Homo sapiens: one gene and its partner. Each later gene encodes a partner of the first gene's protein in a complex. Each region holds a gene or a part of one and is shown in the gene's direction. Other genes may lie near its edges.

Evidence for each region. The genes of interacting proteins can lie anywhere in the genome.
Region 2: the proteins of PTPN7 (region 1) and MAPK1 are in contact, whole or in part, in a crystal structure (PDB 3D42), measured with the Homo sapiens proteins. Residues at the interface, in NP_001351807.1 of Homo sapiens: Arg124, Tyr125, Lys126, Ile128, Asp257, His258, Ser292, Ala293, Gly294, Ile295, Gly296, Arg297, Gln335; in NP_002736.3 of Homo sapiens: Thr185, Glu186, Tyr187, Val188.

The regions. Positions count from the first base shown.
Region 1 is NC_000001.11:202,150,583-202,157,607, reverse strand, and holds part of PTPN7 (tyrosine-protein phosphatase non-receptor type 7), read left to right. Parts: intron 1-1,998; coding exon 1,999-2,075; intron 2,076-3,284; coding exon 3,285-3,422; intron 3,423-3,757; coding exon of another isoform or gene 3,758-3,772; coding exon 3,773-3,883; intron 3,884-4,908; coding exon 4,909-5,066; intron 5,067-7,025. UniProt on the Homo sapiens protein: Protein phosphatase that acts preferentially on tyrosine-phosphorylated MAPK1. Plays a role in the regulation of T and B-lymphocyte development and signal transduction.
Region 2 is NC_000022.11:21,857,646-21,864,670, reverse strand, and holds part of MAPK1 (mitogen-activated protein kinase 1), read left to right. Parts: intron 1-7,025. UniProt on the Homo sapiens protein: Serine/threonine kinase which acts as an essential component of the MAP kinase signal transduction pathway. MAPK1/ERK2 and MAPK3/ERK1 are the 2 MAPKs which play an important role in the MAPK/ERK cascade.

The DNA.
Region 1 (7,025 bases):
GGGGAAGAAGGAGCAAGAATCACAACAGCAGCAATAATAATGTTTGCAGATATGTACCCTGGGCCAGGCCCTGTTCTCAATCCTTTTTTTTTTTTTTAAGACGGAGTTTTCACTCTCGTCACCCAGGCTGGAGTGCAATGGCGCAATCTGGGCTCACTGCAACCTCCGCCTCCCGGGTTCAAGCGATTCTCCTGCCTCAGCCTCCCGAGTAGCTGGGATTACAGGCATGCGCCTCCATGCGTGGCTAATTTTGTATTTTTAGCAGAGGTGGGGTTTCTCCATGTTGGTCAGGCTGGTCTCGAACTCCCGACCTCAGGTGATCCGCCCACCTCGGCCTCCCAAAGTGCTGGGATTACAGGCGTAAGCCACCGCGTCCAGCCTCAATCCTTTATATTCACTCATTTCTCACAACAATCCCATGAAGTTGGTACTGTGATGACCATTTTACAAGTGAGGAAACTAAGGCACAGAGAAGTTGAATATCTTACCTAAGATATTCAACTTAGCTACTTGCACCAAGCCCCTTTCCCTGTCTTCCTCTTGCATGGGAAATGCCCAGCCAAGGCTTGCAGTGAAGGAAGCACCACCAGGAGGGCTCCCAGAGAGATGGCTTTGAGAAAGTCAGATGGAGACAGGGCAACGGCCAGCAAGAGAGCAGTGGAGGCGGGGAGGGAGGACACTGTGCTAGGAGGGGGTGACCCTGCAAACTGGCAGACCCGGAGCAAGCACCTTCTATTTTTCGGAGGCAGGCATGAGGCCCCGGAGCCTCTCCCTCCCTCCCCTGCTCTCCCTACAGGGAAGCTACTCCCAGCTTGAGGCTTTAGCTCAGTGAGCACTCGGGCCCTGTCTCCTGCTAACCCTCCTGGAGTGTCCTCTGCCTGCATGGGCGGATCAAGGTGCTATTAGCGCTATTCCAGGCCAGGGGGAGGAGTAGCCCTTGTTCTTGGCCTAATTCTAATCAGCCCTGCAGCCACCAGAAAAGGGAAAAATTCCTTTGCCTGAGATTCCCCTGGTCCCCAGGGTACCTTCTGTCCATGACCAGGCTGGCATGAGCAGAGCGAGAGTCTCTTCTCCTTTCCTCACAAGCCAGCTTCTTCATCCATGTTTGGGTTTCATTTAGAGAAATCCTTCCCCCTTAGAGGCAGAGGCCAAATGCCTCGTGGCTGAGCGGAATCTGAGTCCTAGTCCCACTTCACAGCTATGTGATATCTGGCAAGTTGCTCATGTGAATCCCATATTCACCATTAGAAAACAAATTCTTCTTCCTCTACATCTCTTTTTCCATCCCTAGTGGCATAATCTTGTTCTAAACCTGTACTGATCTCAAGGATAGAATACTGTATCTATTAGAATATTATATCTAATATTGTATCTTCCCATTTGGTCTCTGCTGTTCCGTTCCCTTTCTTCTCTAGTCCATCCTATACAGCACCACTCAGTTAATCTTCCCAAACTATTGTTTTGATCATGTCACTCTCCTGCTCAAAAACATTATACAGCTTCCTACTGTCTGCGTATAAAATACTTCAATAGGGGCCAGACATGGTGGCTCACACATGTAATCTCAGCACTTTGGGAGGTTGAGGTGGGAGAATTGCTTGAAGTCAGAAATTCAAGACCAGCTTGGGCAACAAAGTGAAACCCAATCTCTACAAAAAACGTAAATAAATAAATAAATAAGCAAGCCAGGTGTGGTGGCATTTGCCTATAGTCCCAGCTATGTCAAAGGCTGAGACAAAAGTATCACTTGAGCCCAAGAGTTAGAGGTTACAGTGAGCTATGATCGCACCACTGCACTCCAGCCTAGGCAACAGAATGAGACCCTGTCTCTAAAAACAACAACAAAAACAACAACTTCAGTGGGTGTAAGGCCACCTGCTATACACAAGGTGCTATGACTGTGATGAGCACAGGAACTCTCCTCTTTCTGACCCTGCTTGAGTCTGTGTTAGTTGGTCACCTTCTGACCTCTGACCTCTGCTGATTTTTATTTCCTAGATCCCCAGAGCCGTGTCTGTCTAGGCCGGGCACAGAGCCAGGAGGACGGAGATTACATCAATGCCAACTACATCCGAGTGAGTGGCCTGGCTGCAGTGGTGGGCGGGGAATGGGGGAATTCTCAGACGTCTGAGAATATCTTCCAGCCATGGCTGGTGGATCAGGTGCCTGCATTTCCTACCCTCCCTGCTCCAGCTCACTGCTGTCATAGCCCTACCAAGCTGGGCTGGTACTGAACATGCCCCAAAACACCAACCTAAAAAACGGAGCAGATGTTGAAAAATATCTGGAGAGACCACCAAGTCTCCCTAACCTCCACTATCAGTCCTCCCATGCCACCCTCTAAACTTAGCAGGAAGTTAGCATTGTTGAACCCAATCTCCAGCTGCTTAAGAGCTCACAGCTCCCGAGAACTGCATAGGTGATGCCAGCACTAATGGGACCTCCCCGCCAACTTACCTTAACTGCCCCTCAGATAGCCCCTCTTATATGAAGATGGTTGATTGACGTCAAGCTATAGGAAGCTCCAGGCCAGGTGGGTGTTCCACGCCAGCTTCTCGCTGCTGTGGGCCCTAAGGAGATGTAAAAGCAGCGCTCTCTAGTGACTCAATGTGGGTAAGACATCAGTCAGGGGCGCAGGGAGGCGAAAAGCTCTTAGCTAGGGAAGCCATGGGGAAACATGATCTTACATTTGCCGGCCAATACCGGATCAACTGCAGTCTGGATTTCACCATCTTGAGAAGCAGGAAGCTGAGGATCCTGAAGGTGAGAAAATCAGGTTAGGGAGAGTGTGCTACATTTTGCTACTACTTTCATAGAAAAGTAGTAACCTGTAAATGTGAAACTGTCACTGAACAAATATTAAACACTGTTTAGGTATTTTGTGCTAGAAGAAAGCAGCAGGGGAGGAAGGGAATAAACATTTATAGAGCACTTGCTATCGGCTAGACTCTCAATATATCTTACTGAATTTAATCCACTCTACATTCCTACAAGATAGATATTATTATGCCCAATTTACAGATGATACCACTGAGGCTTACGGAGGCTAGGTAACTGGCTTATAGTGGTACAGCCAGGAAACAGCAGAACAGGGATCTGATCCTCATTCCAGAACCCGTATCCTTTCCATCATGTGGCTTCTGAGTGTGCGTGTTCGTGCATGTGTACGTCTACACGTGTGGTTCACAGCTTCAGGCTGACCCCAGCACCTGAGGCATCTAGGATCTCCCCAGAGCTCTGCTCTCACTGCTCCCCACCCCTTCCCCTGTGCTTCCACCTTCCAGGGCTATGACGGGAAGGAGAAGGTCTACATTGCCACCCAGGGCCCCATGCCCAACACTGTGTCGGACTTCTGGGAGATGGTGTGGCAAGAGGAAGTGTCCCTCATTGTCATGCTCACTCAGCTCCGAGAGGGCAAGGAGGTAGGAGGCAGAGCCACAGTTCATGATGAACCCAGAAAGTGCTATGCCCACCCCACCCCCACCCCACACACAGGGCAGCTCAGAACCAGAGGTTTCCCTGGGAGCCAGCCCCAGCTCATACCTCTCAGAAAGTTCCCTGAGATATAGCCCTGGGAGGCTGTCTATGGCCAAAATACGGGATAGGGTGAGCACTCTGCTTGCAGGTATCAAGCTCAGAAGAGCCAGGCTCCCTGTTGCTGACCTCCCATCCAGTAGGGGTGGAGGATGGGGAGGAGATACCAGCCCCTCTCTGCTGCCCTGTCACCTGCTCCAGCTGACCCTCTTCTGACTCCCAGCTCCCTCCCTCCTAGAAATGTGTCCACTACTGGCCCACAGAAGAGGAAACCTATGGACCCTTCCAGATCCGCATCCAGGACATGAAAGAGTGCCCAGAATACACTGTGCGGCAGCTCACCATCCAGGTACCACCCCCCCGGAGCCAGGCCCAGTGGGAAGTTGGGCCGCCCACAGCATCTCTGGGACTCAGGCTGGCTCTTCACTAGGAGCCAAGGGTTTGCTCTTCTAAACCATCTTAAACCCACATCTATAGCAGAAAGAGAAACTTGAGCACTGTCCTCAGCCTCTAGTCTAATAGGGCAGAGCCAATAAGCCAAATAGGACTACCGGGAAGTACTCACCCATCTGTGTAAATGGTCAGGCGGGGACAGGCAGGATCCAGGAGCAGGGCCAAGGGAAGGAGAGGAGGTTAAAGGAGATGTGGAAGGCCAGGTGTGGCGGCTCATGCCTGTAATCCCAACACTTTGGGAGGCTGAGGGGGGCGGATCACTTGAGGTCAGGAGTTCCAGACCAGCCTGGCCAACATGGTGAAACCTTGTCTGTACTAAAAATTACAGCTGTTTGGAAGGCTAAGACAGGAGAATCACTTGAACCCAGGAGGCAGAGGTTGCAGTGAGCCAAGATTGTGCTACTGCACTCCAGCCTGGGTGACGGAGTGAGACTGTCTGTCTCAAAAAAAAACAAACAAAATAAAACAAAAAAAGAGAAAGAGATGTGGAATAACATGTACACAAGGGCTTTTAAAATGCCTTCTATTATTTTATGGTGTTTTATATTTTTGAAAGCATTCCTCTATCAACTCATTCTCCTCCAAATATCCTGGCAAGTAAACCAGTAAGATATCACTGTTCCCATTTTCCAGGTGAAGAAAATGAGATCAAGGGACTTGCCCAAAGTCATGTGCTTATGGGAAGCAGAGCCAGGGCTTGAATTTGGGTCTCTCCCCTCTCCCAGGACAATGCTCCTTCCCGGGATTTTGAAGGGGGAAGTGGTGGAGAACAATGAGCACGAAAATTGCAACCTAGCTTGCTTTGAGTAGATGACCCCCCCACAGGGTAATTCCAGCCCTTGCCCTCCTCAGGCACCAGAGAAGAAGGTAGACAGTGCCCTCCACCCTGACCTTGGTTCTCATGCCTTGTCTCCAATCCAGTACCAGGAAGAGCGCCGGTCAGTAAAGCACATCCTCTTTTCGGCCTGGCCAGACCATCAGACACCAGAATCAGCTGGGCCCCTGCTGCGCCTAGTGGCAGAGGTGGAGGAGAGCCCGGAGACAGCCGCCCACCCCGGGCCTATCGTAGTCCACTGCAGGTGCGTGGCCCTCCCTTCACTGCAGCCTGTGGACTGTGCTCCCCTCCCCTGCCCCCTGGGTCTCTCCTGGGGAAGGGTCTGAGCAGAAAAGCATCAGGCAAGCCTAGTCCTTACTCAGACATGACTCGCAAGGCCATTCAGCAAGGGCTCTGTTCTTTTTACCTCCTTCACGCAGAACCCAGACATCTGGGCTGGACACCCAGGCCCCATCCATAGAGGGGATGGAATATCAGGAAGATCCCAGTCAGCTGCAGGAGGACATAAACAGGATTCCAGCTGTTGGGGAACTCATTTACTTATTCAACAAATATGTATTGAAAATCCTATTATTGGCCGGGCACGGTGGTTCACACCTATAATCCCAGCACTTTGGGACGCCAGGGCTGGCAGATCACCTGAGGTCAGGAGTTTGAGACCAGCCTGGCCAACATGGTGAAAACCTGTCTCTACTAAAAAATACAAAAATTAGCCAGGCGTGGTAGCACACACTTGTAATCCCAGCTACTTGGGAGGCTGAGGCAGGAGAATTGCTCAAACTCTGGAGGCAGTGAGCCGAGATCACACCACTGCACTCCAGCCTGGGTGACAGAGCGAGACTCCATCTCAAAAAAGGAAAACCTATTTTTGTCAGGCACGGTGTTAGCTGCTAAGGAGACAGCTATGAACCAAGCAGTTTGGTTTCTTCCCAGACAGTTTTATAGGCTGGTGGGAAAGAAGGCAGATTAGGCTGGGTGCAGTGGCTCATGCTTATAATCTCAGCACTTTGGGAGGCTGAGGCGGGAGGATCACCTGAGGTCGGGAGTTCAAGACCAGCCTGACCAACATGGAGAAACCCTGTCTCTACTAAAAATACAAAATTAGCCACACATGGTGGCGCATGCCTGTAATCCCAGTTACTCGGGAGGCTGAGGCAGGAGAATTGCTTGAACCCAGGAGGTGGAGGTTGTGGTGAGCTGAGATCGCACCATGGCATTCCAGGTTGGGCAACAAGAGCAAAACTCTGTCTCAAAAAAAAATTAAATACCACGCAATGTGATGAGAGCTGTGATGGGGATATTATGGGGACCATAGAACCAAGTCTCCTAAACCAGACTTTGACCAGAGAAAGTTTTCCAAGAGAAAGGCCATCTAAGCCAAGCTAAGACCTGAAAGGTGAATTAGCCAAGTGAAGAGAGGGAAGGGAACACGTTCCAGGCAAGTGGAAGAGCACATGCTAAGGCCCAGAGAAGAAATGTGAAAATGGATACACTGCTGGGAGCAGGGTTACAGGTTAGGCCCAGAGGTTGTGTGTGGGGTAATGATGAGAGATGGGTTTGGAAGGCCAGTGAAGGTCAGATGATGAGGGGACTTGGAGGACTGGCTAAGACACTTGGATTTGCCATTTTAAAAGAACACTTTGGCTATAGAGTGAAAAATGGATTGGGCCAGAGTGAGGGGGTGTCGTAGGGGACAAGACTAAAGAAAGGGACCATTTGGGAGTGCATATCCTAAATAAAACAGAGCACAGAGGCAAAAGGCATGACACAGGGGCCTCCCAGCCCACCCACAGGTAGCACTGGGACATGTGCAGGGAGGTCATTAGGGGCTCACGCAAGAGGAAGGGGAGGCCTAGGGGGTTTTGAAATAAAGAGAGGGCACGATAGAGAAAGCAGAACAGAGTGGAGAGAAGACTGTGGGAGGGCGCCAAGGTGGGAAACAGAGGGGCCGGGCGTGGGCTGCGTGGAAGATGAGTCTGAGCTGAGAGGAAGTCAAGGTTAGATAAGGAGGGCTCGAGGGTCAGCACACCCACAAGTGGGAAACTGTCTGTTGGAAACCACTGTAGACTCAGCAGAAGGGAGATCGTCAAAATGTCCACAGGGACCAAAAGGTGGCCTGCAACAGGCTTACAGTAAGGCTGGTAAGAAATGTAAACTCCTCCCATGCCAATTAAAACCTGCCTCCAGCAGGGCCCCCAAGGGG
Region 2 (7,025 bases), on another chromosome or scaffold:
AATAGGAACAAGTGACAGCTTGAGCTGTGGAATCTAATCTTGGAAATGTACTTAGGTGGCAAACTGTAGAGGACTCCAAAGGCAAAACTAAGTTTGACTGTATATTTGTTCAGTGGAGGAAGCATCTTATTTATTTATTTATTTGTTTATTTTTTTTTTTGAGGTGGAGTCTCACTCTTGTTGCCTAGGCTGTAGTGCAGTGGCATGACCTCGGCTCACTGCAACCTCTGCCTCCTAGGTTCAAGCGATTCTCCTGCCTCAGCCTCCTGAGTAGCTGGGACTACAGGCGCGTGCCACCATGCTCAGCTAATTTTTTTTTTGTATTTTTGTAGAGACAGCGTTTTGCCATGTTGGCCAAGATGGTCTCAAACTCCTGACCTCAGGTGGTCCCCCTGACTTCAGCCTCCCAAAGTGCTGTGATTACAGGCTTTAGTCACCGTGCCCGGCCTTTTTTTGAAAGAGGCAGTCATACATGGTCAATTTTGAAATTTTTTGGGAAGACAAATCAACACTAGTGGGAATGAAGGAAGAAGAACCGGAGTGGAGGAATAAATTAGGAAAGCCTAACCACCTAGAGGTGCAGTAATAAAGTGGCAGCGGAAGGTAGCAGATGGAGGTGAGGAGTTTTGTATTGACAGAAATAGTAACAGGGACCCTTGTGGGAAGAGTGGTAAAAAGACTTTTAATCATGGCAAGTCTGAGTGGAATCAAAGGATTATGAGACCTTAAAGGGTAAGAGACCAAGAGAGGTGGGATTTGGATTTGGAGGGATTTCTGAGATAGAACAAGGCTTGCTGGTTGATTGGCTATGGGCGGTTGTTCATTCTGAGGCCTCTAGGTTGGGAGCCTGGGAGATGGTGGTGCCATTATCCAAGTAAAGGAATACTGTTAGAGCAGATTTGTCAGGGGGAAATAGTTCTGGTTTGAACTTAAGTTTGTAATGCCTGTAGGCCATTCAGGCTATATCCAGAAACCATCTTAAAATTTGTAAGAGGGGAGCAGGAGCTGGAGATGAAAATTTGTGTAAATGGTAGTTAAAATCTTGAGTGGATGAGCACAGATTCTTATCTGGGTCATTGGTTAGGTGAAATTGCAATCATGGCCAGGCGCGGTGGCTCACGCCTATAATCCCAGCACTTTGGGAGGCCCAGGTGGGCGGATCACGAGGTTAGGAGATCGAGACCATCCTGGCTAACATGGTGAAACCCTATCTCTACTAAAAATACAAAAAAAAAAAGTAGCCGGCCGTGGCGGTGTGCGCCTGTAGTCTCAGCTGCTGGGGAGGCTGAGGCAGGAGAATGGTGTGAACCCGGGAGGCAGAGCTTGCAGTGAGCCAAGATCGCGCCACTGTACTCCAGCCTGGGTGACAGAGCAAGACTGGGTCTCAAAAAAAAAAAAAAAAGAAATTGTAATTATATGTTTTCTATATTTATCTTTTTGGTTAAAAAATACATAGCATTTGATAGATTTTCAAATGAGTCCATTATCCTGGAAACATTAAGAACCACTGAAGTAGAACAGAGGACCAACCAGGTAACTCTGGCAAAGAAGAGGAAACTGATGACTGGTCAGATGTATAAGGGAACAGTGTAGACGGGGAGGAGGGAGAGGAGGAGAGATTGAAACACTCTTAGTATGCTTGGTCATCTTAGACTAAGATAGCAAGTGTCTATTTTGGTTTAATTGAGTTTGAAATGCTGTTTCTGAATGCGACAAGAGAGCTCATGGGGTCATCTTCATAGAGATATTAATTGAAGCCTTAAGAGTGGATAAGACATCTGAGAACTAAGCCAAAGGAGTGCCTGCCTTTACTGTGTCAATAAAGGTCAAGTTATGGAAGAGGACAGAGGAAATGTGGCCAGAGAGACCAAAGAACTGGGAGTGCACGTTATCAAAGGAGCCAAGGGAGATGGTACTCATTAAGGGATTGGTATTGAGTACTATAGGAGGGAAACAGAATGCAGCTGACAAGCCATTATATTTGTTGACTTTCAGCTCTTTTTTTTTTTGAGACAGAGTCTTGTTCTGTCGCCCAGGCTGGAGTGCAGTTGCACAATCTCGGCTCACTGCAACCTCCGCCTCCTGGGTTCAAGTGATTCTCTTGCCTCAGCCTCCCGAGTAGCTAGGATTACAGGTGTGTGCCACCACACCCGGCTAATTTTTTTATTTTTAGTAGAGACGGGGTATTGCCATGTTGGCCAGGCTGGTCTCAAACTCCTGACCTCAGGTGATCCCCCTGCTTCAGCCTCCCAAAGTGCTAGGATTACAGTGTGAACCACTGTGCCTGGCCTCTTTTTTTTTTTTTTTAAAGCGGGGATGTTCAACTTGGGAAAGCTGAATGAATAAAAGAAAAAAGAGGGGGATGGTTTCAACTAAAATTTCATTGTGATCACATTCCTGATGGTACAATGTCCTCCTGTCTTGTTAAGGTTATTGTGATTATAGCAGACTAGTAGAACTACCACTTTTTCAGCACTCTTGTTTTGTATTTTACATACATTAATGCTAAGCCATATAACTGTACAGCAAAAGTGGTAACTTCTGTTTGTTTTTTACCCCACAAGTGAAGAAACTTGAGGCACACAGAGGTTAGTTAACTTGCCCAATGACACACAGCTAGGAAGTGATGAAGCAACCCCAGTTTTTCTGGTTCCTAAGTAGTGCTCCACCAAAGATCAGAGTTGAGAAAATAGATTATTTCAGTAACAAGAAATATCTGTTGTCTGCTTTTGCTTGTATCACTTTTTAGCCTTTAAAACCTTTCATGTAGAGTTATTTACTCAGAAAATGTTTATTGAACTCTTCATCCAAATAATGGGATGGAATTGGGGAATAATACAGAGAAGATACCAGTGTTACCCAGGAGTTTGTGAAGTGCTGAGAGGAAGAGAAGAGCTGAGTGACTTGGGGCTGTCTTTCTTTGGCTTCCCAGACTTCTGAGCTAGGTGTTGATGTGTGAGTAGGAGTTTGCCTTGAGAAATGCCTTCTAGGCAAAGCGAAGTGTGCATGTAAAGGCACAGACCGTGAACACAGTGCATCAGGTCAGGAAAACCACAAATTACTTGGGAAGGCTGGAGTGTAGGGTGCCTTAGTAAGAAGGTGGGAGTTGAGACAGCTGGGGGTAGGCAGGGCCAAATCCTGAAGGGCATTATTTGGTAAGGACTTTGGACTTGATCTTGTGGGTGACGGAGTCATTAAAGGATGGCCCTGTTTCTGTCTGCCAGTTCCACTCCCACTTTATCTCTTATGCTTTCTGCCCATTTTGCCTACTTACTTACTTTTTTTTTGAGACAGAGTTTTGCTTGGAGGCTCACTGCAACCTTGCCTCCTGGGTTCAAGCAATTCTGCCTCAGCCTCCTGAGTGGCTGGGATTACAGGTGTGTGCTACCATGCCTGGCTAATTTTTGTATTTTTAGTAGAGACAGGATTTCGCCATGTTGTCCAGGCTGGTCTCAAACTCCTGACCTCAGGTGATCCACCTGCCTCGGCCTCCCAAAGTGCTGGGATTACAGGCGTGAGCCATTGCACCTGGCCGCATTGTGCCTACTTTATCTCGTGGTACTCAGTGGGGGTGATTTTACCTCCCTGCTACAGAGGCATTTGGAAATGTATAGGGGGGCGGCTTTTTGTTGTGTTGTCACGTTGATTAGGGGGTGTTATTGGCCGTCAGTAGGCATGTCAAGGGCAGACATGCTAAATGGTCTGGATTGCACGGTACACTCCCTCCACTGGAGAATCATCCTGCCAAGATGCCCATAGTACAGCACCCCAGCCTGCCCCAAGAAACATCAGGCTCTATTTAAGTCCCGCTTTTCTCTAAAGCTCATCTCTATGAACTTTGCCCTATTGCTTCCTGTTAATGCACTCTCTTCATGGATCTCTGCTGGGTGTTTGTACCACCTGTTTGAAAGGCAGGAACAGCAATAACATATATCATATATAAAAACTCTAGACCTGGAGACAGAGATATTGAGATTCTTAATTTTGCTTGCTCATTGTTTACTTAACTTTTTTAATCAAGAAGTCTCCTCTACACTTTTGGAGCTCAAAGATGCAAGGACAGCAGCTTACATGAGTAACAGAAGAATCTAGTGTTTCTGAGCAGAGTTTAGAGTAAAAGGATAAGTCAAAACAAAATTAATTTTTATATTAATAGCATCCCTAATGATGTATTCCTGGTAGTTAGCTATAACCATTACACCATTCCCATAATCTGATTTGTGTAAATTCAAGTTGACTTTTCCCCAAAACTGTATGTAATTTATTCCTCACCTTGCTCACAATTTATATACCTATTAATTGAAAAACACCTCATTCCCCAACAAACATCTAGAGCTCCTTGCCTCCGGCCTACTCCACCCACCCTCTTGCCTAATCCTGAGATGCTATTTTGCTCCCCTTTAGATTTGCTTTTTTTCTTTCACTTCTTGAGGCTCCCACACTGAAAGGTGCCTAGGAGCTCATCCAGTAGCTGCGCTGTCTCTGCTCCCTCTAGGAAAGGCCACCTGCCTGAGCTTTGAAATGGCCCACACCGTACCAGAAGGAAGAAGAGAGATTCCAGGAGGATTCAGACGTTACCCAGGCTTTCTGGAAACTGAGCAGAACCACAGGAGGAGAAAGCTATAGGCAGCTGAACAAAATTTATGTGTTTCTATTTCCCCTGCTATAACATGAAAGGACTGGGCTCTGTCTGTGGTTTTCAAATCTCCTCCTCTCTTAGGGGCTTCAGGCCTCACCCCAAATAGGGAAACTTCACATACAGCATTCTCTCCCCTAATCCCTGTTTTTTCTATTCTTTGCTCTTCTCTTATCTACCTCCTTCCCCTCCCGTTTCCCTTCTTCCTCTGCCCTTAGTCTTTTTTCTTTTTCTTAATTTCCTTTTAGTCATTATCATCTTCAGTTCACATAGGTAGTAACTATTAGGGTTAGCAGGGCAAGATCCCATTTGGAAAAAGGATTTGATTGCTTTGAAAATGATGTTGGGCAACCCACAGGATAGATGGTCTCCAAGGTCCCTCCCAGATTCTCAGACTCAAGGCAGGCCCTGGGGTTTGAACCTATGGCCAGTAGGAGCTGGATAGCAGGTGTCTGCATGGATAATATGCCATGATCAACTGACTAATGTTAGTTGCAAGCCTGCCTTGCTGGTTTAAGCTTCATTCTCATTCTTGTCTTTTTTTTTTTTTTTTTTTTTGAGACAGAGTCTCACTCTGTTGCCCAGGCTGGAGTGCAGTGGCGCGATCTTGGCTCACTGCAACCTCTGCCCCCAGGTTCAAGCAGTTCTCCTGTCTCAGCCTCCTGAGTAGCTAGGATTACAGGTGCCTGCCACTGTACCTGGCTAAGTTTTTTTTTTTTTTTGTAGTTTTTAGTAGAGATGGGCTTTCACCCTGTTGCCCAGGCTGGTCTTGAACTCCTGACCTCGTGATCCATTCGCCTCAGCCTCCCAGAGTGCTGGGATTACAGGTGTGAGCCACCGCGCCTGACCGTCATCCTTGTCTTTGAGGTATTATATTTTGCACTTTACACATAAGGGAACTGGGTGTCAGGTAACTCGTTCAGGGTTCACAGCCAGTAAGTATATTGCAGAACTGAGATGTAAATTGAGATTTATGCAGACCCCAAATCCTGTGACCTTTTTTCTTTTAACTACTATAGGCTTTTCTCTGTTATACCGAGTTACCTAGAAACGTACTTCCTACAGCCTGGGTTCCTGAATGGATTAGCCCTAAAGTATAAAATGATTATGCCATTGCAGACAGACCTGAAGAAGAGGCTAGAAAGGATTAGAGTTAAAGTAACTTTGTTTTTTGTTTTTGTTTTTTCTTTATCTCCAAAGGATCTGTCATCTAGCAACTTAATTTTTATCAGGAAGCAGTATTGATTTCTTCCCATTCCTTCTAGTTACCTCTACCAGTTTCTTGATTTTCATTCATTTAATATTATTAAACACGTACCGGATTATGTGCTAGGCAGTAGGAACAAAGTAGTGAACAAAAGTTGTTCTTACTCTTTGGTGTTTACAGTCCAACAGGGCAGTAATAACATTTACTGAGTATGGTGAGGTGTGGAGTGCCACTGGATGATATAAGATATTCTGAGTAGTCATGAAGGGTTTCCGGGAGGAAGTGGTGTTTAAGCTGGGACCTGAAGGAAGACTTAGAGCTAGCTGGGTAAAAGGTAGGGTAGAGTGCTGGAATGTTTTAGGCACTACTTTGTAGAGACTGCATTATAGAAAATGAAAAGTTTATGATTAAGATCTGGGGGCCTTTGTCATATTACTGCAAGGATAGAAAGTGCAGTTAAAGCTTTAGGTATAGTTGGAACCAGGAACTGGAAAATAGACCAACGTAGCTACCTCCCTCCCTCTTTACAGTTACAAAAGCTTCTTGTACCCTACATCTCTCAGCAGCTGGATTTTCCCCCCTCTTTTCTCTTTTGTCACTTCCCCATGCACTCAGCAGAGGAGAGCTGACCCTAGCTCCCTGAAGGTATGTGTCTTCAGGTTTTTTGATGACCAGAGGCTGAGAACACTCTGAATCCAATTCCAAGTGGAACAGAATGTGTAAAAACACTGTTAGGGAGATCATTCTGCACAGAACAGCTCACTCCACCTGGCCTTTCCAGCCTGGGAGAGTGTCTGCCTCTGGTCTAGTCAGCTGAGGCCCAAGGTGGGGTCATTTATTAAATAAAGCTGCATATCTCGGAATGTCTAAAGGGCAAGGTGGGAATTGTCAAAAGGGGTCTCATTGATTTCTGACTTGTTAGGTTAAAGTTCTTGGTACTGTTTTCCCTGTCATTCTCCAGGGAGTGTGTATCACTCTCCGGTTTTTACAGATGAGGAAAATGAAACAAAAGTTGGGTAACTTGCCAGTCACAAGTAAGGGGTCAAAGGATTGTCATGAGTATTAAATAAAACAGTATACTTGAAGTCCTGAGCACTTGGTACCTAGTTAATGCTCTGTTATTCCTTTGAAGTAAACAGGGTTGACAAGATGTGAATCCCCCTTTGTCTCGGTCTCTATGTA